7 linked regions of the Homo sapiens genome follow. The protein of the gene in region 1 purifies or fractionates together with the protein of each later gene. This does not show direct contact. Each region holds a gene or a part of one and is shown on either strand. Other genes may lie near its edges.

What was found.
Region 2: the proteins of MCTS1 (region 1) and ATIC fractionate together in Homo sapiens (co-fractionation; one large-scale study listed by BioGRID). This does not show direct contact.
Region 3: the proteins of MCTS1 (region 1) and PLPBP fractionate together in Homo sapiens (co-fractionation; one large-scale study listed by BioGRID). This does not show direct contact.
Region 4: the proteins of MCTS1 (region 1) and IPO5 fractionate together in Homo sapiens (co-fractionation; one large-scale study listed by BioGRID). This does not show direct contact.
Region 5: the proteins of MCTS1 (region 1) and CORO1C fractionate together in Homo sapiens (co-fractionation; one large-scale study listed by BioGRID). This does not show direct contact.
Region 6: the proteins of MCTS1 (region 1) and RLN2 purify together in Homo sapiens (affinity purification with mass spectrometry; one large-scale study listed by BioGRID and IntAct). This does not show direct contact.
Region 7: the proteins of MCTS1 (region 1) and GAB2 purify together in Homo sapiens (co-immunoprecipitation; one large-scale study listed by IntAct). This does not show direct contact.

Annotation. Positions count from the first base shown.
Region 1 is NC_000023.11:120,607,101-120,610,600, reverse strand, and holds part of MCTS1 (malignant T-cell-amplified sequence 1), read right to left. Parts: intron 2,377-3,500; coding exon 2,243-2,376; intron 1-2,242. UniProt on the Homo sapiens protein: Translation regulator forming a complex with DENR to promote translation reinitiation.
Region 2 is NC_000002.12:215,315,059-215,318,558, forward strand, and holds part of ATIC (bifunctional purine biosynthesis protein ATIC), read left to right. Parts: intron 1-3,098; coding exon 3,099-3,175; intron 3,176-3,500. UniProt on the Homo sapiens protein: Bifunctional enzyme that catalyzes the last two steps of purine biosynthesis.
Region 3 is NC_000008.11:37,769,145-37,772,644, forward strand, and holds part of PLPBP (pyridoxal phosphate homeostasis protein), read left to right. Parts: intron 1-3,500. UniProt on the Homo sapiens protein: Pyridoxal 5'-phosphate (PLP)-binding protein, which may be involved in intracellular homeostatic regulation of pyridoxal 5'-phosphate (PLP), the active form of vitamin B6.
Region 4 is NC_000013.11:98,009,175-98,012,674, forward strand, and holds part of IPO5 (importin-5), read left to right. Parts: intron 1-706; coding exon 707-839; intron 840-928; coding exon 929-1,050; intron 1,051-3,071; coding exon 3,072-3,168; intron 3,169-3,500. UniProt on the Homo sapiens protein: Functions in nuclear protein import as nuclear transport receptor. Serves as receptor for nuclear localization signals (NLS) in cargo substrates.
Region 5 is NC_000012.12:108,655,019-108,658,518, reverse strand, and holds part of CORO1C (coronin-1C), read left to right. Parts: intron 1-1,095; coding exon 1,096-1,215; intron 1,216-3,500. UniProt on the Homo sapiens protein: Plays a role in directed cell migration by regulating the activation and subcellular location of RAC1. Increases the presence of activated RAC1 at the leading edge of migrating cells.
Region 6 is NC_000009.12:5,301,917-5,306,011, reverse strand, and holds the start of RLN2 (prorelaxin H2 isoform 1 preproprotein), read left to right. Parts: upstream 1-1,295; 5' UTR 1,296-1,431; coding exon 1,432-1,642; intron 1,643-1,746; exon of another isoform or gene 1,747-1,815; coding exon of another isoform or gene 1,816-1,916; intron 1,917-4,095.
Region 7 is NC_000011.10:78,411,321-78,414,820, reverse strand, and holds part of GAB2 (GRB2-associated-binding protein 2), read left to right. Parts: intron 1-3,500. UniProt on the Homo sapiens protein: Adapter protein which acts downstream of several membrane receptors including cytokine, antigen, hormone, cell matrix and growth factor receptors to regulate multiple signaling pathways.

The sequences.
Region 1 (3,500 bases):
CACTCTGTTGCCCAGGCTGGAGTGCAATGGCGCAGTCTTGGCTCATTGCAACCTCTGCCTCCCGGGTTCAAGCAATTCTCCTGCCTCAGCCTCCCGAGTAGCTGGTGCTACAGGCGTGTGCCACCACACCCAGCTAATTTTTGTATTTTTAGTAGAGATGGGATTTCACCATGTTGGCCAGGCTGGTCTTGAACTCCTGACCTCATGATCCGCCTGCCTCAGCCTCCCAAAGTGGTGGCATTATAGGCGTGAGCCACCATAGCCGGCCGTTTGTTTTTTTGAGATGGAGTCTTGCTTTGTCACCCGGCTGGAGTGCAGTGGCATGATCTCAGCTCACTGCAACTTCTGCCTCCTGAGTTCAAGCAATTCTCCTGCCTCAACCTCCCTAGTAGATGGGATTACAGGCGCATGCCACCCCACCCAGCTAATTTTTGTATTTTTAGTACAGACAGGGTTTCGTCATGTTGGCCAGGCTTGTCTCGAACTCCTGACCTCAGGTGATCTGCCCGCCTCAGCCTCCTAAAGTGCTGGGATTACAGGCATGAGCCACCACACCCGGCCTGAATGGTGGTTTTATGTAAAGGCTGTTTTAAAATAATAGGTAAATTCCCAGTCTATCTTTAAGAGCCTGATATAACAGTTTCAACCTTTCTAGAAAAACCAGAGTGGTCTTGGTTAACATATGAAGTTTCTGGAATGTTAAACACTGCAGTACATATTTTAAAAAGTCAAGATTCAGGGTACACAAGACCTCTCTGTACCATTTTCTTTAACAACTTTCTCTAAATCTGTAACTGTTTCAAAATAAAAATTATTTTTAAAAGTAAAGACTAGGTACTAAGGAAATTTTCCATTTAAGGTTAACTCCAGAACTATAAATTTACCAACACTTAATAAATATTAAAAACAAACAACAACAACAAAAAACCCGTCCTCACTTTTCTCCCTTGATTTTCAATTCACTCAGTGTTCCAAATATGTGAGCACCTATTAGGCAAAAAGCATGTCAACATAAGCTGTTCCTAGAATATAAACATACTACTTATACTACCTCTTCGCTATAACTGCCCCAACAGAGAATATCATTTTTTTTTCTTATTCTTCTTAAACACACCCCTGGCCAGGTGTGGTGGCTCACACCTGTAATCCCAGCACTTTGGGAGGCCAAAGCGGGTGGATCACCTGAGGTCAGGAGTTTGAGACTAGCCTGACCAACATGGTGAAACCCTGTCTCTACTAAAAATACAAAAATGAGCCGGGCGTGGTAGTGGGTGCCTGTAACCTCAGCTACTCGAGGGGCTGAGGCAGGAGAATTGCTTGAACCCAGGAGGCAGATGTTGCAGTGAGACAAGATCGTGCCACTGCACTCCAGCTTGGACGACAGAGCGAGACTCCATCTCAAAAACTAAAATAAGATAAACACACTCTAAAAGTAGTTTCCCTATTCCCACCAAGTACCATTCCTTTTCTATACCCGAGGCAAATGGCTACTTTAGCTATGATAAAGGAGAAGATGTTCTCCTGTCCAGAATAGTCACAAAAATCTATTTAATCCAGAAAATAGCTGAAACAGCATGGTAGAAATGGAAATAATGCAGAATTATTCAGCTATGTCATGAGTTGAATCGATCTTTAAGGACCATCTGGGACTCTGACATTTCTCTTTGAGAAAACGTGCTCTGAGGCCCCCAAACTCAACTTTTCAAATAATTAATTTTCAAAATAAAAGTTGGAGGTTGCCAATATTTCCCACTATTCACTCCTAACACAAAATTGTTGCTTGGTAAGAGATACCTATACCTGGTGCCTAAATTCTTTTCCCTTTTGAGAGCTTTCACTCCAACGTATGTCAGTAAGTCAAAATGAACATTACAGTGGCAAGTTGATATCCAAAAAGCTGATCCAATTATATCATCTATATCCTTTCCCCTAGTAATCAAGAATTCCCTATTGTGTCCTAAGTCTGATAACAGTAGGCCCTGACTGGGCTGAAATGCAGCTGAGACTCTTCTGTAACTTGTTCTCATTTAACTTCTAAGAAACGACCTAAGATGAGATAATTTAGTAGCAACAAATAAAATTACTTTGTACAACTTCAAATGTAACCAGAAAGGCATGAGATAAGAGTAACAGTAACCTTCAAAAAAGTACATCTAATGTTCTCTTGGATGGTACACCTTTCGCAGTAATGATAAGAGCACAATGAATACATTTTTCAGCAGTTTTAGCCTGGGAAGGATACAACAATGGTATCTACTGCAGCAGGGTAAAGCTTAGCTCCAGGAGAAGTTAAGCCTGGACACATGATATTTGCTCCACTGAGTACAAATTTGATGGCTCCTTTATCAACCTGCTGGTGTGGCAGGATAAAAGGATCTGTAAGAAAAGATATACAATATATTAATAATAAGACTAATGACTCAACAGAAAAAGGCAAAGGATCTGAACAGTATTTCCCCAAATTAATCTGACAGATACAAAAGAAAACTCTGAAACACTATCATTTGTTTACCAAATTGGTAATCTTTTTTGTTTGTTTTTTTGAGACAGGGTCTTGCTCTGCCACCCAGGCTGGAGTACAGTGGAGCAATCAATACCTCACAATAACCTTGAACTCTTGGACTCATGCAATCTTCCCGCCTCAGCATCCCAAGTATTCTCCAAAAACCGTAATTTCAAAACTATGGTTTTTGGAGACTACTTAATATGCCCTGGGAAATTTTTGTGATATAATGTTAAGTGAAAAACGCAGAGTAAAAAAACGATTAAAAAGATCAGTGGTTACCTGGGGTTGGGGAAGTGGGGGGAGGAAGGATGAATAGGTGGAGCACAAAGGATGTTAGGCCAGTAAAACCATTCTGTATGATACTTTAACAGTAGATACTTGACATGTATTTGGGAAAAACCATAAAACTGTAGAATACAAAGAGTAAACCCTAATGTAAACTAAGGACTTGCGTTAATAATAATGTATCAATGCTGGTTCAATTGTTACAAATGTATCATTCCAAAACAAGATGTTATTCATAGGGGAATCTGAACTGGGGAGAGGGAACTCTATTCTTTCTGCTTACTTTTTCTGGAAACCTAAAACTGCTCTAAAAAATAAAAGCCTGTTAATTTAAAAAAAAACTACAAGGGGATGAGGAGAAGTTGGTTAAGGGGTATAAAAATACAGGTCGATAAGTTCTAGTATTCGAGAGTACAATAAGGAAATTATATTTAACAATGATTTACTCTATATTTCAAAATAGCTAGAAGAATTGTAATCTTCTCAACACAAAGATAAACGTTTGAGGTGACAGATACCCTAATTACCCTGATTTGATCATTACACGCTGTATAAAGGTATCAAATATCACATGTACCCCTAAAATATGTACAACTATTATAAATATATATAGGTGGTGGGGGATACAGGCACCACAACAGCAGACAATGTACAGCTATGACGTATCAATTTTTAAAAACTATGTAACAGAGAGCCCAATTTTAAAAAA
Region 2 (3,500 bases), on another chromosome or scaffold:
TGAGGTGGAGAAAGCCAGGAAAGCCTGTCTGTCCAGATTCTTCTTGGCTTCTCTAAAATTCTTTCTCCACCCCCTAAGGATCTCCTGACCTACTAATGGGCAAGGAGATGAGAGGATTTCTTTACGTCCAGCTCCTAGACAGAAAGCCAGTGGAAAGTTAGAATCATAAGTTTAAATCTTATGACTGGCTTTGGGGAAAAAGAGTTTTAGTTTCTGTAAACTGCCCTGGGGAAGAGAAATTCTCATTTCTGTGACTTCAGGGAAGAATGAAGGGTGAGAGGCAAGAGGGCAGGAGAAAGCTATATATATATATTTTTTTAGAGGGTTTTACTCTGTCACCCAGGCTGGAGTGCAGTGGCACAATCATGGCTAATTGCAGCCTCGATCTCCCAGGCTGAGGCAATCCTTCCACCTCAGCCTCCTGAGTATCTGGGACTACAGCTGCACACCAGCATGCCCAACTAATTTTTGTATTTTTCATAGAGATGGTTTCACCATGTTGTCTGTCTGGTCTTGAACTCTAGGGCTTAAGCAATTTTGCCTGCCTTGGCCTCCCAAAGTGCTGGGATTACAAGTGTGATCCACCATGCCTGGACAAGGTCTTGGTTCTGGCTGGGCGCAGTGGCTCACCCCTGTAATCCCAGCACTTTGGGAGGCTGAGGCTGCTGGATCATCTGAGGTCAGGAGTTTGAGCCCAGCCTGGCCAACATGGTGCAACTCCATCTCTGCTAAAAATACAAAAAAGAATCAGCCGGGTGTGGTGGCGTGCACCTGTAATCCCAGCTACTCAGGAGGCTGAGGCAGGAGAATTGCTTGAACCCAGGAGGTGGAGGTTGCAGTGAGCCGAGATTCCACCACTACACTCCAGCCTGGATGACAGAGAGAAACACTGTCTCAAAAAAAAAAAAAAAGATCTTGGTTCTGAGGCTGCTTCTGAGCATATTTTTGGGTGTTGTTATCTGCAATAATTTTATCCCAGGAAGTTAACCATTACCTTGTCATGAGGTAAACTGATGGATTTTAATTAGTGAGTATACAGCAGTGAGCATACATAGAATTATTTCCCGAGACTACAGCCATTATGTATAAATTCTTCAGTTCAAAGGAGTAGCAAGCTTTTTAATTACCCCAAATGTTTAATTCTAGAAATAAATCCGCCTTCTCTAAGTTTTAAGTGACTGTCTTCATTTGGAGGAAATGGATTTTATTTCCTGAACCCCAGGAAAAGAAATTTTGAATTTGAAAACACTTATGTCACCAGTTTGTGGATGTTGGAACTGTGTGTGTCATTGGTCAAACACCAGTCATTTGCAAATGGCTCCCCTTAACAGGAGAATCTACCCAGGAAATTCCGTATCTTACTGGCAGAACTTGCTGCTTTAAAGTGTTTATTATAGTCTCAGCTACTTGGAGGATTACTTAATAAGCCCAGGAGTTCTAGGCTGCCATGGACTGTAATCTTGCCTGTGAATAATCACTGTACTCCAGGCTGGGCAACATAGTGAGATCCCATCTCAAAAACTATATATGTTGATTGTAGAAAATTCGAAAATATGGACAACTATAAAGAAGGTAGTAAAAATGGATTGTAATTCTTAACATGCTAGTATATTTTTCTTCAAGCATTTTTATAAGCATGTACTTTATTTCATAGCTTACACAGAAGATAGATGCAGTTTTGCTTCCTGCTTTATTTATTTTTATGTATTTATTTATTTTTTGAGACGGAGTTTTGCTGTTGTTGCCCAGGTTGAAATGCAGTGGCACAATCTTGGCTCACTGCAACCTCCGCCTCCCGGGTTCAAGCGATTCTCCTGCCTCAGCCTCCCAAGTAGCTGGGATTATAGGCATGCCCCACCATGCCTGGCTAATTTTGTATTTTTAGTAGAGGCGGGGTTTCACCATGTTGGTCAGGCTGGTCTGGAACTCCCTTACCTCAGGTGATCCATTCGCCTTGGCCTCCCAAAGTGCTGGGATTACAGGTGTGAGCCACCCCACCTGGCCCCTGCTTTATTTTTTCTTATATATTGTGGGCATTTTTACACACCATTACAACTTATAAAGTCTGCCAGAGTGTTCGTGGTTACGACTTTCTAGGGGTCTGCTTTGTGATATGGATTAATATTTACTGTCCTTCACTTGACCCTTTGTCACATTGTGTGATTATTTTTTCTAGTTTACTTTTTTTTCCCATGTAAAACTTTTTATTTAACATTTCTGTAATCAGAACTCTCAATCTTTTGTTTAAAACTTGGAAAGCATTCCTCACATATTTAATTTTGCTACATGCATGATTTTTTAAATGCTAAACCTTTGATTCATAAGGAATATATTTTTGTTTGGGTTTAACCCGTTATTCCAATAGCAACACCACTTTATTAAACAGTCTTTTATGTCTTCACTCACTTGATATGCCATCTTCATGTGTTGTTGTTGTTGTTTTTTGAGATGGAGTCTTGCTCTGTCGCCCAGGCTGGAGTGCAGTGGCATGATCTCGGCTCACTGCGACCTCCAACTCTTGGGTTCAAGTGATTCTCCTGCCTCAGCCTCCCCAGTAGCTGGGATTACAGGTGCCCGCCATCACGCTCGGCTAATTTTTTGTATTTTTTTAGTAGAGCTGGGGTTTCATCATGTTGGCCAGGCTGGTCTCAAACTCCCCTCCTCAGGTGATCCACCTGCCTCAGCCTTCCAAAGTGCTGGGTTTACAGCCATGAGCCACCGTGCCCGGCCAAGGATATTTTTAATGCTTTTTGTTACATACTGCCAAATTCTCAGTTGTATGTCTTAGTAATATTTAATGAGTATGGCTTATGATTCAGTTTCTAAATGCTCTGAAAATTATAAAACCAGTGCTGTAGTAGTTACCAATTATCCCTGAACATACACAACAGTTAGGAAATAAATTAAATAAACTTTTTTTCGGAAGTAAATAGAATTTTACTTAAGAAATAAAATATAGTGAAATACTTTAAAAAATCAGAATTTTCACGTTGAATTCAGGCTCAAAATCTCTTGAAATGAAAACAGTAGATGCTTTGAATAGTGAAAATTACAATTCAGCCACACCAGTAGTACCATTCTGTTTATCTGTTTTTCAGAGATGTCTCTGAGTTGACGGGATTTCCTGAAATGTTGGGGGGACGTGTGAAAACTTTGCATCCTGCAGTCCATGCTGGTAAGTGGTTGGTATCTTTAATGTAAAAACAGTCAGTGGTTTCCAGGAATATTTTAGTTGATAGCGTCCTAAAATAAAGGAAGAAAAAGGCTCAAGAGAAATTTACATATAAAGTTAATGTTATGAAGTTGCTGCCAGATTTCATAATACGTTAGAACTGGTTTAAAATCCAGCTTGTCTTACTACTTGATGAATTCAGATTGTTTTCCTCTGCTTGCTATTAGTCCTGACCTGATACCTAATTTAGAGTCTGGTGTTTCCTGCTCAAGTTGCTGAAGATATTTAGATTTCATCGTATGAAAATACTTTTAAAATAGTTCAAACT
Region 3 (3,500 bases), on another chromosome or scaffold:
GGTAACATGGCAAAACCCTGTCTCCACTAAAAATACAAAAAATTAGCTGGGCGTAGTGGTGTGTGTCTGTGGTCCCAGCTACCTGGGAGGCTGAGGTAGGACGATCACCTGAGTCCAAAAGGTTAAGCCTGCAGTGAGCTGTGATTGTGCCACTGCACTCCAGCCTGGATGACAGAGGAGACCCTATCTAATAATAATAATAATATTAATAATAATAAATTTTAAAAGAACAACTAGCAGATTTGATCACACAAAAATTAAAGCTTTCTGCATGTCAAAGCAAAAGGGAGGCACAGAGTGGAAGAAAAATAATATTTTTGAAGAGGGAAGAGATTCATATCCAGAATACATAAAGAGCTACAAATCTTTTTGTTTATAGGGAAAAAAAATAGGCAAAAACTGGGGCAATTTATAAGGGGTAAAAATACAAAAGGCCAGTAATCAAATGAAAAATATTCATCCTCAGAGAAATACAAAATCACTAATCAGATTTGTAAAAAATCAAAAAGACTGCTAAGATCCAGTGTTTTGAGGGAGTGAGTAAATGAGTACTCCTTCGTCTTACCAGGAGATTCTAAAACCGTAGAGTCTTGGAAAAACATAAAGATTCCACCAAAAAACTATTATAACTGAAAAACAACTTCAGTAACATTGCAGGATACAAAATAAATATACAAAAATCAGTAGCATTTCTATATGCCAACAGTGAATGATCTGGAAAAGAAATCAGGAAAGTAATCCCATTTACAATAGCTACAAATGAAATACCTAAGAATAAACTTCACCAAAGAAGTGAAAGATTTCTGCAATGAAAACTGTAAAACACTGATGCAAGAATTTGAAGAGGACATGAAAAAATGGAAAGATATTCCATGCTCATGAATTGGAAAAATCAGTATTGTCAAAATGTCCTTATTGCCCAAAGCAATCTACAGATCCAGTGCAGTCCCTATCAGAATACTAGTGACATTCTTCACAGAAATAGAAAAACACAGTCCTGAAATTTATATGGAACCACAAAAGACCCATAATAGCCAAAGCCATCCTGAGCAAAAAACAAAGCTGGAGGAATCACATTACCTGACTTCAAATTATACTGTAGAGCTATAGTAACCAAAACTAGCATAAAAACAGACACATAGACCAATGGAACAGAATAGAGAACTCAGAAATAAATTTGTACATCTACAGAGAATTTATTTTTAACAGAGGTGCCAAGAACATACATTGGGAAAAGGACAATCTCTTCAATAAGTGCTGCTGGGAAAACTAGATATCCATATGCAGAAGAATAAAACTAGACTCCTATCTCTCACCATGTACAAAAATCAAATCAAAATAGATTAAAGACTTAAATCTAAATCCAAGACCTGAAACTACTAAAAGAAAACATTGGGGAAACTCTCCAAGACATTAGTCTGGACAAATTTTGTTTGTTTGTTTGTTTGTTTTGAGACAGGGTCTCACTCTGCACCCAGACTGGAATGCAGTGGCATGATCTCGGCTCACTGCAACCTCCATCTCCTGGGTTCAAGCGATTCTCCTGCCTCAGCCTCCCAAGTAGCTGGGATTACAGGCACGCCCCACCATGCTGGCTAATTTTTGTATTTTTGGTAAAGACGGGGTTTCACCATGTTGGCCAGGCTGGTCTCCAATTCCTGACCTCAGGTGATCCGCCCACCTCAGCCTCCCAAGGTGCTGGGATCGCAGGTGTGAGCCACTGCACCTAGCCATGTTAGAAATATGTAAAGGTGATGGGAGGAGGGAGCGGGGAAGGAGCCAGCAGGCATAGAAGGGGCAGGAAAACCTAACAGAACTGTTGTTTTAGTGCCATTTTCCCTTCTGGATGATCCGTTATACTCATTCAACCTCACAGCTCAATTCATTTCCATAAAGGCTTCTTGAGGCCAGATGCAGTGACTCACACCAGTAATCCCAACACTTTGGGAGGCCAAGGTGGGAGGATCACTTGAAGCCAAATACATATATGTATATTTCTTTCTTTTTTAGTCTTTCTAGTCTTGCTCTGTCACCCAGGCTGGAGTGCAGTGGCGTGATCCCGGCTCACTGCAACCTCTGCCTCCCAGATTGAAGGAATTCTCCTACCTCAGCCTCCCGAGTAGCTGGGATTACAGGCATGTGCCACCAGGCCTGGCTAATTTTTTTTGTATTTTTAATAGAGACAGGGTTTCACCATGTTGGCCAAATGGATCTCAAACTCCTGGCCTCAAGTGATTCGACCACCTCGGCCTCCCCAAGTGCTGGGATTACAGGCGTGAGCCACAATGCCTAGCCATCTCTGGCTAATTTTTTTATTTTTTGGTAGAGACAGGGTTTCACTGTGTTGGACAGGCTGGTCTTGAACTCCTGGCCTCAAGTGATCTGCCCTCCTCAGCCTCCCAAAGTGTGGGGATTACAGGTGTGAGCCACTGCACCTGACCTTGACAAAGATTGCTTGAGTAAATACTCCAAAAGCACAGGCAACCAAAGCAAAAATGGACAAATGGGATCACATCAAGTTAAAAAGCTCTTGCAGGCTGGGCACAGTGGCTCACGCCTGTAATCCCAGCACTTTGGGAGGCCAAGGCCAGCAGATCACGAGGTAAGGAGTTCAAGAACAGCCTGGCCAACATGGCAAAACCCCATCTCTACCAACAATACAAAAATTAGTGAGGTGTAGTGGTGGGTGCCTGTAATCTCAGCTACTTGGGAGGCTGAGGCAGAAGAATAGCTTGAACCCAGGAGGCAGAGGTTGCAGTGAGCCAAGATTGTGCCACTGCACTCTAGCCTGGGCGACAGAGCGAGACTCTGTCTCCAAAAGAAAACAAGCTCTTGCAGAGCAAAGGAAACAACAAAGTGAAGAGACAACTCAGAATGGGAGAAAATATTTGCAAACTGCCCATCTGAAATACTTGTACATAGCACCAAGTTCTATATCCAAGCTTTGTTTTTGTAATAAAAAATAAGAAACAATCTAATATCCATTAACGAGGAATAGTTATGTAAACTGTGATAATCTGTCCTGTGGATTGCTGCAGTTTTTTAGTAGAGATGGGGTTTCACCATGTTGGCCAGGCTGGTGTCAAACTCCTGACCTCAGGTGATCCACCCACCTGGTATTACACGTGTGAGCCACCACACCTGGCCAGTGTTAGGGTCATGGTGATGTCCTTGTTGGATAAGAATACCCTCATCCCAGAAAGTTGAAGAATTGTGGTGATATGCTAGGGAAGCATCTTGGCTTCCACTGGTCATCCTTTCTTCATTGTCATCCTGACCTGTTTCTCTCAGTTTGAACTGAGACATAGATCAAGCCTTTTACTAGGAATCTGTCCGTTACCAGCTTCTTGAAGCTTATGGATGTATATGCTGCCTGATCATGTATGTCAGCTTTTCCCTTATTTACCTTTGCTGATTAGCCAGGGATGGTCTGACATTTGAATTTGTATCTAGTAAAACTGTCACATTTGTCTTCTCAGAGGAACTGAGATTTAACTGTG
Region 4 (3,500 bases), on another chromosome or scaffold:
GTGGACTTTTACATATAAAATCATTAAGAGGTGGGGCATGTGTCCATGCATGCTCAATAGATAAATAGGTAGGTGGATGACAGATATCAGGGGATAAGAATCACTTTCTAGGTTGCAGGGGTGGTGAATGGAACCAGATTCTCTAGGTAATTTGCAGATGATAAAGTCTGTGTAAACACAGTAATAGGAGAAGAGGTGTTTTAAATATACTCAGCCACTTATGAGAAAATTATAACAGCTAAGAGAAAAGGATGTTTTGTTTCTTGGGTTTTAATAAATGTTTAATGAATGGAGTGGCAGGCAATAGGGATACAGAGTCAGATAAAATACATTTCTGTCTTCAAAAAATTTGTAACTGGGAGTTGATGAAGTGTTTGGTTTTGTTTAGGTGATTAGTTTCATTTAGATGATTCAGATGCTAAGAAAGAAAACCATTATCACTTACTGAAAGTAGAAAGAAATACCCAAGGTTCTGGTCTTTGTGTTTTGCCTCACCTGCTGTCCATATCCCAGTGTAGTGAGTTCACAGGGATTTCATTATTGATTCTGAACCTTTTAAGTACATAACCTTTAGAAATGCTCTTACTGCTTAAAGTACTGTGAACATATCAATAAAACATTGTTTCTATGAAATAAGGAAATGGCTTTCTTTATCACGTTTACCCATTGTTTTTTAATCTATTTTAATTTTAAAATTTTTCCCCAGATCTCTTACATGATCTCAGCATGGGCCAGAATGTGCAAAATCCTTGGAAAAGAATTTCAGCAATACCTTCCAGTGGTTATGGGGCCTTTAATGAAGACGGCTTCAATTAAGCCCGAAGTAGCCCTTTTAGATAGTAGGTGTCTTTAGAAGGAGCTATCGGTTATAATAGTTCTCTCTTTGTTATTATTTTTCATATGCATTTGTTTTCTTCTCCGTTAATAGCCCAAGACATGGAGAATATGAGTGATGATGATGGTTGGGAATTTGTGAACCTTGGAGATCAGCAAAGCTTTGGTATTAAAACTGCAGGACTAGAAGAAAAATCAACTGCTTGCCAGATGTTGGTAAGAGAGCACTGTTTTTACTAAACTTTTATTTTACATCTTATATACATTTCATATGAGTGCTTTTAATAGCTGCTAAAGAAATTACTTTGGAGAGCCAGTAATATGTTCCTTAAAAAGTAAAGTTTTCTTTCCATTTTAAAGAAATCGTATGGATAAACCTTTCATTATCAGTGCTGTTTTAAATAGCAAAAAACAACAAATAGCCCAAATTCCTGTTAGTGGGAAGATGAATTACTGTGCCTTGGAGTAATATACAGCCATTACAAAAAGTTTATAAGCTACATGAGGGAAGGATTTTTGTTGGTTTTGTTCTTAGTCTATAGTAGGTGGCCATGGAATGTTTTTTAAACAAATGAACAGAAGTGTGTTCATGCTATTTAATGTGAAACAAAACTTGTATGATTTCAATTGTGTAAAAAAACAGATATGGCAGGAAAATCAAAATGTTCGGTTATTATCCCTTATGGTGTTTGTGGTGTGCATATGCATGTTTAGTTCCTAGTTTTCTTTTTGTTTTCTTTATGAGCATGCGTTTTAAAGTGAAGGATAATCCTTTTTTTTTTTTTTTTTTGAGGTGGAGTCTCTCTTTTTCACCCAGGCTGGAGTGCAGTGGCACGATCTCGACTCACTGCAACCTCCACCTCTGGCGTTCAGTTGATTCTCCTGCCTCAGCCTCCCGAGTAGCTGGGATTACAGGCGCCTGCCACCACAGCTGGCTACTTTTTGTATTTTTAGTAGAGATGAGGTTTCACCATTTTGGCCAGGCTGGTTTCCAACTCCTGACCTCAGGTGATCCGCCTGCCATGACCTGGGATTACAGGCATGAGCCACTGCACCTGGCCAATACTTACTTTTAAAGTTAGATTTTAGAAATTAATGTATTTCTTATTGTCATCTTCAATACTTAGTATCTATAAATTATAAACACTTTGGATTTTTGTGGGTTTTTTCTCTCAACTGGAAAGCAAATACAAATAATAACATCTTTAAACAGAATTAATCTTTAGATGTAGTAGAAGAGAATGAAACAATTGGGTTTTTGGGGTTTTTTTTGTTTGTTTGTTTGTTTGTTTTGCTTTTTGAAACAGAGTCTTACTCTGTCGCTCAGGCTGGAGTACAGTGGCTTGATCTCAGCTCACTGCAGCCTCCGTCTCCTGGGTTCAAGTGATTCTCCTGCCTTAACCTCCCGAGTAGCTAGGATTACAGGTGCACGCCACCATGCCTGGCTAATTTTTTGTATCTTTAGTAGAGACGGGTTTTCACCATGTTGGCCAGGCTGGTCTTGAACTCCTGACCTCGTGATCCGTCTAACTCTGTCAGCCAGGCTGGAGTATAGTGGTGCCATCCCGGCTCACTGCCACCTCCACCTCCTGGGTTCAAGCGATTCTCCTGCCTCAGCCTCCCAAGTACCTGGCATTACAGGTGCCCGCCACCATGCCTGGCTAATTTTTGTATTTTTAGTAGAGACGGGGTTTCACTGTGTTGGCCAGGCTGGTCTCGAACTCCTGACCTCGTGATCTACCAGCCTCAGCCTCCCAAAGTGCTGGGATTACAAGCATGAGCCACCGTGCCCAGCCATGATTTTTTAAAAATACAAAATAACAGAAGCGTTTTCTACAGATTTACAAAGTAAATGCTTCAATTAACTGATGGTTTCAGGGTTTTTTGTATCTTTTAGAATGATTTTTCCTCAATTAAGTGATACATTTTGTTTGATGTATTGCTGAAACTTGCTGAATGGAATACGAATGATTCCAGCCTTTGAAGGGACAATATATACGACAATAATTTCCTTTTTTTTTTTCTTTTTGTCACTCACCAATACTACAATCATTTCATGACCCTTCTTTTAAGACTCTTTTTAGTTGGAAGACTAATTTGACAGTTCTACATGCAACTTTAAATGTAGTTCTAGTCAAAATACAACCTCCTGTGGTCCTTATGATTTTGCTGTTTGTTAATATTAATGCTTGAAGACTAACATGAATCTTTATTTCCTCCCAATACTTTGGTTACAGGTTTGCTATGCTAAGGAGTTAAAGGAAGGCTTTGTGGAGTACACCGAACAGGTTGTCAAACTGATGGTCCCTTTACTGAAATTTTATTTCCACGATGATATCCTACAACTTCTGAATACAAAACATGTCTAGATTTAGTAAACTTGTAGTTTCTTGGAGTATTAGACAGTGTTGACTGAAGTAGACTTCACCATGATTGTTTGTATTTGCACTAAGTGTACTCTTAGGTGATAAACTCGGTTCTCTGCATGTGCCTTTGTTTCCACTTGTGCCAAAACATGAAAAAGAAAACGTGACCTATCCTATGTTTGTCAGCTTTCTGTGGCCCACTTAAGGATTTAAGGATAATTAGCAAATGATTACAATTATATATAGTTGCTACTTTCCCCAAATATCTTTTGGTAAACGTTAAGAAAATAAGACTTTTAT
Region 5 (3,500 bases), on another chromosome or scaffold:
GCCTTTTTTCACAAAGAAATAGTTTGTATCAGTTCACTAGAGTCCTTAAGAGTTTATAAGTCTTGATCAATTAAACCAATTGGCTGCATTCCTGATTTTGCAGCTTAGTATTGAATATTGATGAATCAATTCCTCACCCTTTTCCAAACACAGCTGTTAAAGATGCAACAGGTGGCCGGGCATGGTGGCTCACACTTGTAATCCCAGCACTTTGGGAGGCCGAGGTGGGTGGATCATTTGAGGTCAGGAGTTTGAGACCAGCCTGGCCAACATGGTGAAACTCTGTCTCTACTAAAAATACAAAAATAAATAAATAAATAAATAAATAAATGCGCAGGGCGAAAAGCAACAAGTTCTCTCATCAGCTCAGTGTCTTAGTTTCTGCCACCCAAACTGGACCTCAACAAAATCACATACCTTGACAAAAGATGGACATTTGGGTCTTCAGTCGGTGTTGAAACTACACATAGTAAGTCTGAGAAGTCCTCATTTGCCACACTCTGAGGCCCTTCCTGAGATGTGGTTGTTCTTTGGCTGCATCTCTTTTCAAGAGTTGGGCAATGATAGTAGCTGGTGCTTACTGAGCCCTGGGGACTTGCCCAGCCCTGTGTTAAGTGTTTTCTCCACCCGACATCTTCTAAGGGTTGTCCTAGTGCATTCATTAAACTACTGAGGTCAAGGAAAGCGTTAACTAGACAAGGCTTCTTTCTGCCCTATGATATTGGTAGAAATGGTAGGGCATGCCTAATCTCCTTATGTTATTATCCTCTTGAGAAACAAACATTTGTCAGAGTCCTTTCATGTGTTTTATTTTCACAGTGCATAGACTTGGGTTGGCAGCAGGATATGGTGGAGAGAGCGAGTCTTCTGAGTTAAATCCTGGCATTCTTGCAGCCTCACAGAGGGACCTTGACCAGATCACATAGTATCTCTTTGTTTCCTCATCTGGGGAAGGGGGATGGTTAACACTGACCTCCCTCCCACACCCAGGTGAACATGAATGGCAGTTGGTGAGGTTGGATCTGTGCCCGAGTTTCTCCACTCACCTTGTCTTCTTGCAGTTTAATGTGTGGCATGTGCCTTTTTGCTCTCCAGGAGAAGGAGAAAGCACATGAAGGAGCAAGACCCATGAGAGCCATCTTCCTGGCCGATGGCAATGTCTTCACCACTGGGTTCAGCCGCATGAGCGAGCGGCAGCTGGCTCTCTGGAATCCGGTACGCCCTCCCCAGGCTTTCCACTTGCTTTCACTTGAGCTTTCTCTCTGTTCTGAGCAGGTCTTCCAGTGAGTAAGTAGATTATGGGATTCTTAGTGTAGTTTTCTAAACGCCTGATTGTCTTAGATTGGATGTGAAGTTCTTATCCTCGTTGGAGACTTACTGGTAAATGTATTTCAAAGACATACTTTTGATACTCCTGAAGAGGCTGTTGACTATATATTTTTTATTTTTTTAATTTTTTTTAATTTTAATTTTATTGGTCATTTTTGGGTGTTTCTTGCAGAGGGGGATTTGGCAGGGTCATAGGACAATAGTGGAGGGAAGGTCAGCAGTTAAACAAGTGAACAAAGGTCTCTGGTTTTCCTAGGGAGAGGACCCTGCGGCCTTCCGCAGTGTTTGTGTCCCTGGGTACTTGAGATTAGGGAGCGGTGATGACTCTTAACGAGCATGCTGCCTTCAAGCATCTGTTCAACAAAGCACATCTTGCACCGCCCTTAATCCATTTAACCCTGAGTGGACACAGCACATGTTTCAGAGAGCACAGGGTTGGGGGTAAGGTCATAGATCAACAACATCCCAAGGCAGAAGAATTTTTCTTAGTACACAGCAAAATGAAGTCTCCCATGTCTACTTCCTTCTACACAGACACAGCAACAATCTGATTTCTCTATCCTTTCCCCACCTTTTCCCCTTTTCTATTCCACAAAACCGCCATCGTCATCATGGCCCGTTCTCAATGAGCTGTTGGGTACACCTCCCAGACAGGATGGTGGCCGGGCAGAGGGGCTCCTCAATTCCCAGAAGGGGCGGCAGGGCAGAGGCGCCCCCCACCTCCCGGATGGGGTGGTGGCCGGGTGGAGGCTGACCCCCCACCTCCCTCCCGGATGGGGCTGCTGGCCGGGCGGGGGCTGCCCCCCCACCTCCCTCCCGGACGGGGCGGCTGGCCGGGTGGGGGCTGACCCCCCACCTCCCTCCCGGACGGGGCGGCTGGCCGGGCGGGGGCTGAGCCCCCACCTCCCTCCCGGACGGGGTGGCTGCCGGGCAGAGACGCTCCTCACTTCCCAGACGGGGTGGCTGCCGGGCGGAGGGGCTCCTCACTTCTCAGACGGGGCGGCTGCCGGGCGGAGGGGCTCCTCACTTCTCAGACGGGGCGGCTGCCGGGTGGAGGGGCTCCTCACTTCTCAGACGGGGCGGCTGCCGGGCAGAGGGGCTCCTCACTTCTCAGACGGGTCGGCCAGGCAGAGACGCTCCTAACCTCCCAGACGGGGTCCCGGCCGGGCAGAGGCGCTCCTCACATCCCAGACGGGGCGGCGGAGCAGAGGCGCTCCCCACATCTCAGACGATGGGCGGCCGGGCAGAGACGCTCCTCACTTCCTAGACGGGATGGCGGCCGGGAAGAGGCGCTCCTCACTTCCCAGACTGGGCAGCCGGGCAGAGGGGCTCCTCACATCCCAGACGATGGGCGGCCAGGCAGAGATGCCCCTCACCTCCCAGACAGGGTGGTGGCCGGGCAGAGGCTGCAATCTGGGCACTTTGGGAGGCCAAGGCAGGCGGCTGGGAGGTGGAGGTTGTAGCTAGCCGAGATCACACCACTGCACTCCAGCCCGGGCAACATTGAGCACTGAGTGAACGAGACTCCGTTTGCAATCCCGGCACCTCGGGAGGCCGAGGCTGGCGGATTACTCGTGGTCAGGAGCTGGAGACCAGCCCCGCCAACACAGCGAAACCCCGTCTCCACCAAAAAAATACGAAAACCAGTCAGGCGTGGCGGTGCGCGCTTGCAATCGCAGGCACTCAGCAGGCTGAGGCAGGAGAATCAGGCAGGGAGGTTGCAGTGAGTCGAGATGGCAGCGTCCAGCTTCGGCTCGGCATCAGAGGGAGAGCGTGGAAAGAGAGGGAGAGGGAGACCGTGGGGAGAGGGAGAGGGGGAGGGGGAGGGGGAAGGGGAGAGGGAGGGGACTATATTTTTTAAAAAGAATGAAGAATCTAGTGTTTTGGATTTGGAAAATAAGTTCATATTTCATAAATAATATGATCAGTTGTCTAAATCAAAATAGTCATGCTTGGGAAAATGTTCATAATTAGCTTAAGTGGGGAAAAATACAACATACATTCTATCATCTCAATCTCTGTGTACATGTGTCGGAAGGAAATAGATCAAAATGATAATAGCTTCTGTCACCCACTGGGCTGTAGGATTTTGATGGAATGATTTTTATGTTCTTTTTTATATCTTTCAACTTTTTAAAAGCACACATATTTTATAATTAAAGAAGTACTTT
Region 6 (4,095 bases), on another chromosome or scaffold:
TCAACCCACAAAAATGTTTTCAAACCTCAGTTTTGAGAGGCCTCTCTCAAACTGCGTGTTTTAATGAAAACTCATTTAAAAGCATTGATTGCATCTGACCATCTCATAGTCTTGGTCAGGTATTTTTTGAAGAATTACACATTGCTTGGCATTTGACCAATGCTAAGTGGGCCTACTGACATCACCAGCAATCTAGAAATTAGAATTATTTGATTCCATAGTTATGTTTGTAACTAAGAGATTGTTATTCTTTTATTTCAAAGCTACCCTAATGTCCTGCATGTCTCCAGTTTATCTGATGGAGCTGAACTAATCTGAGTATATTATGAACACAAGCAAGTAAGTTATTTTAAAAAATGAACCTACTTGTACTAAAAATTTACAGGTAGAAGGGTTGTCTACTAACCATATTACCTAGAACAGTGTGGATCTTTAGAAAGTTAAATTAAATGATGGTAAAAAATCACCTCTTACCAGGTGCAGCAAACACAAAATACAGTAAACAAACAAACATATCTTTGTGCTGTAATTTGTTACCAAAATATTCTTTGTGGGATTGTGGGATTTCCACTGCTTTTTTTTCTTCTCTCTCTCTCTCTCTCTCTCTCTGTGTGTGTGTGTGTGTGTGTGTGTGTGTGTGTGTGTGTGTGTGGTATGTTCTCCAGTCTCCAGAGATGTAGATTAGAATTTTAAATTAAAATGTTCAGATAACTAGTTACAATCAAATTTATCCCCAAGAGTGGAAGGAAAGTGCAATGGAGAAATTGTTTTGTAAATTAAAGACATTACTGCACAAGCCTAACATGATGTTACTGGGGATTTTAATGTTTTTACCTGCATTCAGATTAAAAGTCATCAGTTTTCCCTGTCATCAACAATTTATTTATTCATCCATTCTATTTTTATATTTTTATGGATTGATATACCCAACACTATACTAATTAACCCAATTTACAAGATAATCTATAATCTTATTTAGGTTAGAAGGGTTTTTTGGCAAATGTTCACTCTAGAAAACTGAGTTGTAAGAATATGGGTGATCTCAAATTTGTTTCTGTGTGTGTAAAAGGAAAGGCTTCATATCTAAAATGACTTTACCTCAGTATACTAAATTGTTTGAGGGTAATGAATGAGAAGAACACAACTGTAAAAGGGCCAAGGACAGAGGGATGGGCAAATGAAGGAAAGGCAGAGAGGGAGACCAAGAGCTGAGGGGGAAAATTCTGTGGAGGGGTGTGGGAAAGGGGTGGAGCTGGCACCCTTGCCTTAAAAGCTGAGTGATAGCCCAAGGGATACAAAAGACCGCTTGAGCCGGGTAGGGAAAGCAGCCTAAAGCCCGGGACAGGCACACAGGCCCAGGTGTGTAGGCCACAGCAGCTGCAGTCCTGAAAGGCTGCAACGTCCCGACCTCCAGGAGAGACCAGGCCCAGGATGCCTCGCCTGTTTTTTTTCCACCTGCTAGGAGTCTGTTTACTACTGAACCAATTTTCCAGAGCAGTCGCGGACTCATGGATGGAGGAAGTTATTAAATTATGCGGCCGCGAATTAGTTCGCGCGCAGATTGCCATTTGCGGCATGAGCACCTGGAGCAAAAGGTCTCTGAGCCAGGAAGATGCTCCTCAGACACCTAGACCAGTGGCAGGTGAGAGCTCCCGCCCCCTCCCGGCCTTCCCGCGCTTCCCATTGGTTACTCTGGGGCGGCCGCCCAATTGGAACGGCGGCCTGCACGTCCGACTCGAGATCTCATTGGCTGCCACCGCTCAGCCCCTACTCAGCCGTGGCTGGTCCCTAAAGTTTGGGCTTTTCCTTTGCCAGGTGATTTTATTCAAACAGTCTCACTGGGAATCTCACCGGACGGAGGGAAAGCACTGAGAACAGGAAGCTGCTTCACCCGAGAGTTCCTTGGTGCCCTTTCCGTAAGGCAGTCAGAGCGACGGGGTGGAAAGGGAGGGGAAGCCTCAGAGGAGGTGACGCCGCCCGGAGACCCGCAGGAGGCCGGGCGCACTCCTGCACCCCACAGGAAAGCCAGGCGGCCAGACAGCGGGCGTGCTGGTGGGGGCACCTGAACAGGGCTTCTCGGATAGAGAGGAGAGGGGACAAACACTGAGGCGGCGCGCTAGTTATCAAGCCTGTTTGCGCGCCTGTAGGACGGGGCAACACTCTGAGGTCTCTGTGAGGGTCCCGTGATGGGAAGACAGGAAGGGCCTTACACTTAATGACTCTCCTAGTCCAGAAGTTGGGCTGTGGCCTTTGCCATTGGAAACGTTCTTTAAAATAAACAAACAGAAAATCCCAAAGGAAAGAGTCTGACCTCCCGCTTCTTTGATCTGGGTATTGAAGTTCATTTGTGAGGCAGGGGATGGAAGAGAAAGGAAAGGCTTGAATGCCTTTAGGAGAAACTCAAGAGGACCAGAGACAAGGAAAGCAGGCCGTTCAGACCATCATAGCTGAAGACCCTACTGATGCTTTCAAGCATTTGGAAGCTGCAGTGGGTTTGCTTTAAAGGCAAGCTCTTAGAGTTGAGTACAGCTCAATCTGAAATGGCTTTTAAAAATATTTTAGTATTTATAAAGTAGCAGTGGAAACTCATGGAGGTATATACTAGTCTAAGAAGTGTAACGGGTCATATTAAATTCAGAGAAAGTAACCGCAGTTGCAAATACTAAGTGTTTTGTATTAGTATGACATGTAATTTATGATAAACCGCAACTAAATTTTATAGGCTATATGCATATACTATATATAAATGACTCTAACAGAAATACATTTACTTCTCTTTTATGAGATTTAAAGTATGCTTCTAAAGTTATTTACTTTTCTACATTGTTAGAGTTTGATTTATTTAATGGCAGTTTTTACATGACTTTTGTATAACATTAGTACAAAAATACCACAACGTCTAGGAATTTAGTGATAAAAAGTAGAGAAGACCGGATTGCATTGCATTTGCTTTATTATTCCACATTTTCTGACTATAAAAGTAGTAATGCTCATATTAAAGACAAATGTACATTAATGCAGCGTGAAAAATGAGAAGCACTCGTAGATATTAAGGACTTTGAAAAGTATATGTGAATTTTATGAGAAAATGAAATTATATTAAACAAGTAAGTGGAAAGAAATGTTAACATTTGGATAGGTATATGTATATATCTTTTGCATTTTCACTCACCATTATACTTTGAGCAGTTTCTCACATTGTTATTATCCCAAAACACAATTTGAAATTCCTGTGTAGTATTTTTTGTCATAAATCTGCCACATACACTTAAGGATTCTTTGGTGGATATTTAGTTTATTTCTAAATTGTTGCTGAAAATACTTCATTAAGCACATTTGTATATAGATATGGCTACATTTTTATTTCCTTTGAAGAGACATGAGATTACAAAGTATTTTTAAAGAATTTTCTTTATTGATGTGCAGTATAATTTAACTGAAAGTAACCTCAGAAAATATTGCCTGCAGGTGGAGATTAAGACAAATGTTTACCATTACTAGGTAGGAATCGTTTTGGAAGTACATGTCAGTAATTTGTGATTAATTTGAGTTTTCAGACTTCTACTGTTAGGTAGTTGCTATTTGCTTCCACATTATTACATTGTTAGCCATCCATTTCATCCTACAATATGTGCTAAAATCATATTCACTGCATCCCTTTTAAAAATAAGATACCCTTTAAACCAGAAGAGGCCTATTTTAGTGAGATTTACATCCAAAATAATAAGTGAATAAGGGTATTTGTATGAATTCAGACAGAATATTTTCTTTGAGCCTAGGTTCCATAGCTAAAGGTGTTATGGATTATGAAATATTTCAAAACAGGTTTAAAAATATAATTTTAATAAAAGTATAAAATACACAGCCTATGAACAAACCTAATACAAACTATAACTGTTTTGGCTGACTCATTTAACTGGCTTTAAGTATATAGAAAATTACCATCAGCTTCTTTCAGTATTTAATAAGGCCCCAACTACAGAAAGTTTAGGTTGGATCAAAGAGAGGTTTTTATGATGAAATTGAATTAAACTTAGGATGTCTTACTGAGGGGAAATGCCAAAACCTCTCATTTAACCAAAAACGATATAAATT
Region 7 (3,500 bases), on another chromosome or scaffold:
GAAGCAAAGGCAAATGTTTGAGCAATTAGTTTTCAGGGATTTTTTTCATCAGCCTTTTCTAGTTAATTAAGTATAAGTATAAGAGACCTATCTGCTATTTACTGAGTGCCCTGGAGAAATTGCAAAAAGTGTCTCTGGAAAATGCTGACTATTGCCTCTGGGGCATCCTGATATGGCTGCAGTGGGAGGCCGGCAGAAGTAACAACCCTCCCATCGTGCCTCAGTGTATTTGTGTGTGTATGCGCGTGCATGCAAATGCATACACACGTACATGTATATAATTATTAAACAGAATTTTCTTGAGGAAAAACATTTTATTAATATGACCTACACTGCATTGTAGTTTTCTATCAATTTCACTGGATTAAAAGATTGAGGGAATAAGATTGGCAGACTACCCCCTAGTGGCTAACTTGAAGAAAGTTGTGCACAAATTGTAAAGAACTACTGCATTAAGGTAACAGTAATTGTTTATTTCCATTATATTTATTAAATATACTTATTAAATCTATGTCCCAGGCACTGGATCAGGTGCTTGGAATAAAAATCCAGTAAACAGAAAAAAAAATTAATCCAGTCTTTCAGTCTTAGCAATGGCTTTGCCTTCTCCTTCAAAGGAAAATTGAAATGATGAGGGAGTAGTTGTCTGTACGTACGATGAATGGCCACATTTTCAAATTTACTTGTATCTGCATAGTTCCTTTCTTTCTTCCTTTTTTTTTTTTTTTTTTTTGAGACAGAGTTTCACTTTTGTTGCCTAGGCTGGAGTGCAATGCACGATCTGGGCTCACTGCAACCTTTGCCTCCTGGGTTCAAGCGATTCTCCTGCCTCAGCCTCCCAAGTAGCTGGGATTACAGGCATGCATCACCACACCTGGCTAATTTTGTATTTTTAGTAGAGATGAGGCTTGACCACGTTGGTGAGGCTGGTCTTGAACTCCTGACCTCAGGTGATCCACCCGCCTCGGCCTCCCACAGTGCTGGGATTACAGACAGACATGAGCCACCGCGCCCAGCCTGCATGGTTCCTTTCTTGTTTCCTTTTCTTAGAGTAGATGAAGTGCCACTTCTATCTGAGCTAATCCTGCTACTTATACTTTGAATCATATCTTCTCCTCCCTACTCAAATAATTCTTATCCTGTAACACATCTTCAACTTCTTTCCCTCTCTGTACTACCTACTTTTTTTCAGGGATAAACTTGGTGGTGGTTTATGCAGTCTTCCTTTCTCCCACCTTCTTCTCAGTCGGCTCCAGTGGAAACCTACTTTGTTATTCACCAAAGCTATTCTGACAAAGGCACCAGCGATACCCAGGTCACTAAACTCAGAGGATGATTTTTTACTCCTCATTTTAATTAATCTCTTCACTGCTTGGTCATAGTTGACCACTCTTTTTTAAAACACCTTCCTCTTATCTTGGCTGACACTATAAATGCCTGTTATTTCTCCTTTTCTGGCTACTCTATATTTCCTTTGCTAGACTGACCCTTTTATCCAGTCCTTAAAGGTTGAAGCTCCTTTATAGTCATAGTGGCTGTGTGGTTTCTCCCCTTTGGCAACCTTGTCCATTCTACTGGCTTCAGTTATCATTTGCATGGTGGTCATCAAGTTAAATTTCCATCTCAGAGTTGTGTTCTGAACTTCAGACTTACATATCCAACTGTTAACTGGGCATCTCTATTTGAATGTTTCCCAGTCAACACAAACTCACCACTTCCAAAACTAAACTCTTCTTTGTTCATCTCTTCACTCCACATCTGCTCAGTAAACAGTGCCACTAAGCACCTACTTGCTCAGATGAGAAACTTGGGCATCATCTTTGACTCCCCGTCACCCACTATCCCACATCTAATCTGTCACCAAAACCCATTAGTGGTATCATCTAAATATCTTGTTATACGCTTCTTCATCCCCACTGCCATGACTTTTAGGATTATTTTAGTAGCCATCTGTTGAGCACTTACTTTGTACCAGGCACTATGCTTAGACCATTGATCTTTTAATGTAGTAATTTAGCCCTATAATAAGGGAAGCAACTTACCCAAAGTCATCTAGCTTTGTCCTAAAGCCTGGGCTTTTTAAAAAAATTAAACATTTCATTTTGAGGTAATTCTACATGCACATCTAGTTGTAAGAAATAGTAAACAAAGATTTATGTAGCCATTATCCAGTTTTCCTTAATGGTAACATCTTGCAAAATTATAGTACAGTATCACAACAGTATATTGACAATGATACAGTCAAGATACAGAGCATTTCCATCATGATAGGATTTTTTATGTTGCCCTTTTATAATCGTATTCACTACCATCCCACCCCTACCACATCCTTAATCTGTGACAACTACTAATCTGTTCTCTGATATTTCATGTGTGTTATTTAAATGGATTCATGCAGTACTTAAGATTTTGAACTTTTTTTTATTCAGCATAATTCTCTGGAGATTCATCCTCATTTCATGCATCAATAGTTATTGTTTTTTATTGCTAAGTAGTATTTCATGGTATGGATGTACCACACAGTCTGTTTATTTAACCATTCACCCGTTAGTTCTCATTTACATTTCCCTTATGGCTAATGATGTTGAACATCTTTTCATATGATTATTTGCCATCTGTATATCCTCTTTGGTCAAATGTCTTCAAGAATTTGAGTATTTTATATATAGGTTTTTTTTTTTTGAGATGGAGTTTTGCTCTTGTTACCCAGGCTGGAGTGCAATGGCATGATCTCGGCTCCCCAGGTTCAAGTGATTCTCTTTGTTGTTGTTGTTGTTGTTGTTGTTGTTTTTAGACAGATTCTCACTCTGTCACCCAGGCTGGAGTGCGGTGGCACAGTCTTGGCTCACTGCAACCTCTGCCTCCCAGGTTCAAGCGATTCTCCTGCCTCAGCCTCCTGAGTAGCTGGGACTACAGGTGTGCGCCACCATGCCCAGCTCATTTTTGTATTTTTAGTAGAGACAGGGTTTCACCATGTTGGCCAGGATGGTCTCAATCTCTTGACCTCGTGATCCGCCCACCTTGGCCTCCCAAAGTGCTGGGATTACAGGCGTGAGCCACTGCGCCGGCTTTCCTGGTTTTTTTTTTTCTACACATTTTACAGGTTTATGTTTTTCCTTTAAGTCCGTGATCCACTGTGAGTTAATTTTCATGTAAGATGTGAGACTTAGATTGAGGTTCTTTTGTTGTTGTCATTGTTGTTGACAAAGCCATCCTACTTCCATTGAATTGCTTTTCCGTCTTTGTCAAAAATCAGTTGGACGTATTTGTGTGGGTCTGTTTCTGTTGTCTCTGTTTTGGTCCATTTTTCCATGTGTCTGTCCCTCTGCAAATACCATAGAATCTTGCCAACTCTAGCTATATTGTAAGTCTTGAAATCTGGTAGCCTGATTCCTCTACTTTATTCTTATTTTTCAAAGTGTTTTAGCTATTCTATTATCTTTACCTTTCAATACAAATTTTAGAATAATCTTGTTTATGCAAAAAAAAGAAAGTCTTGC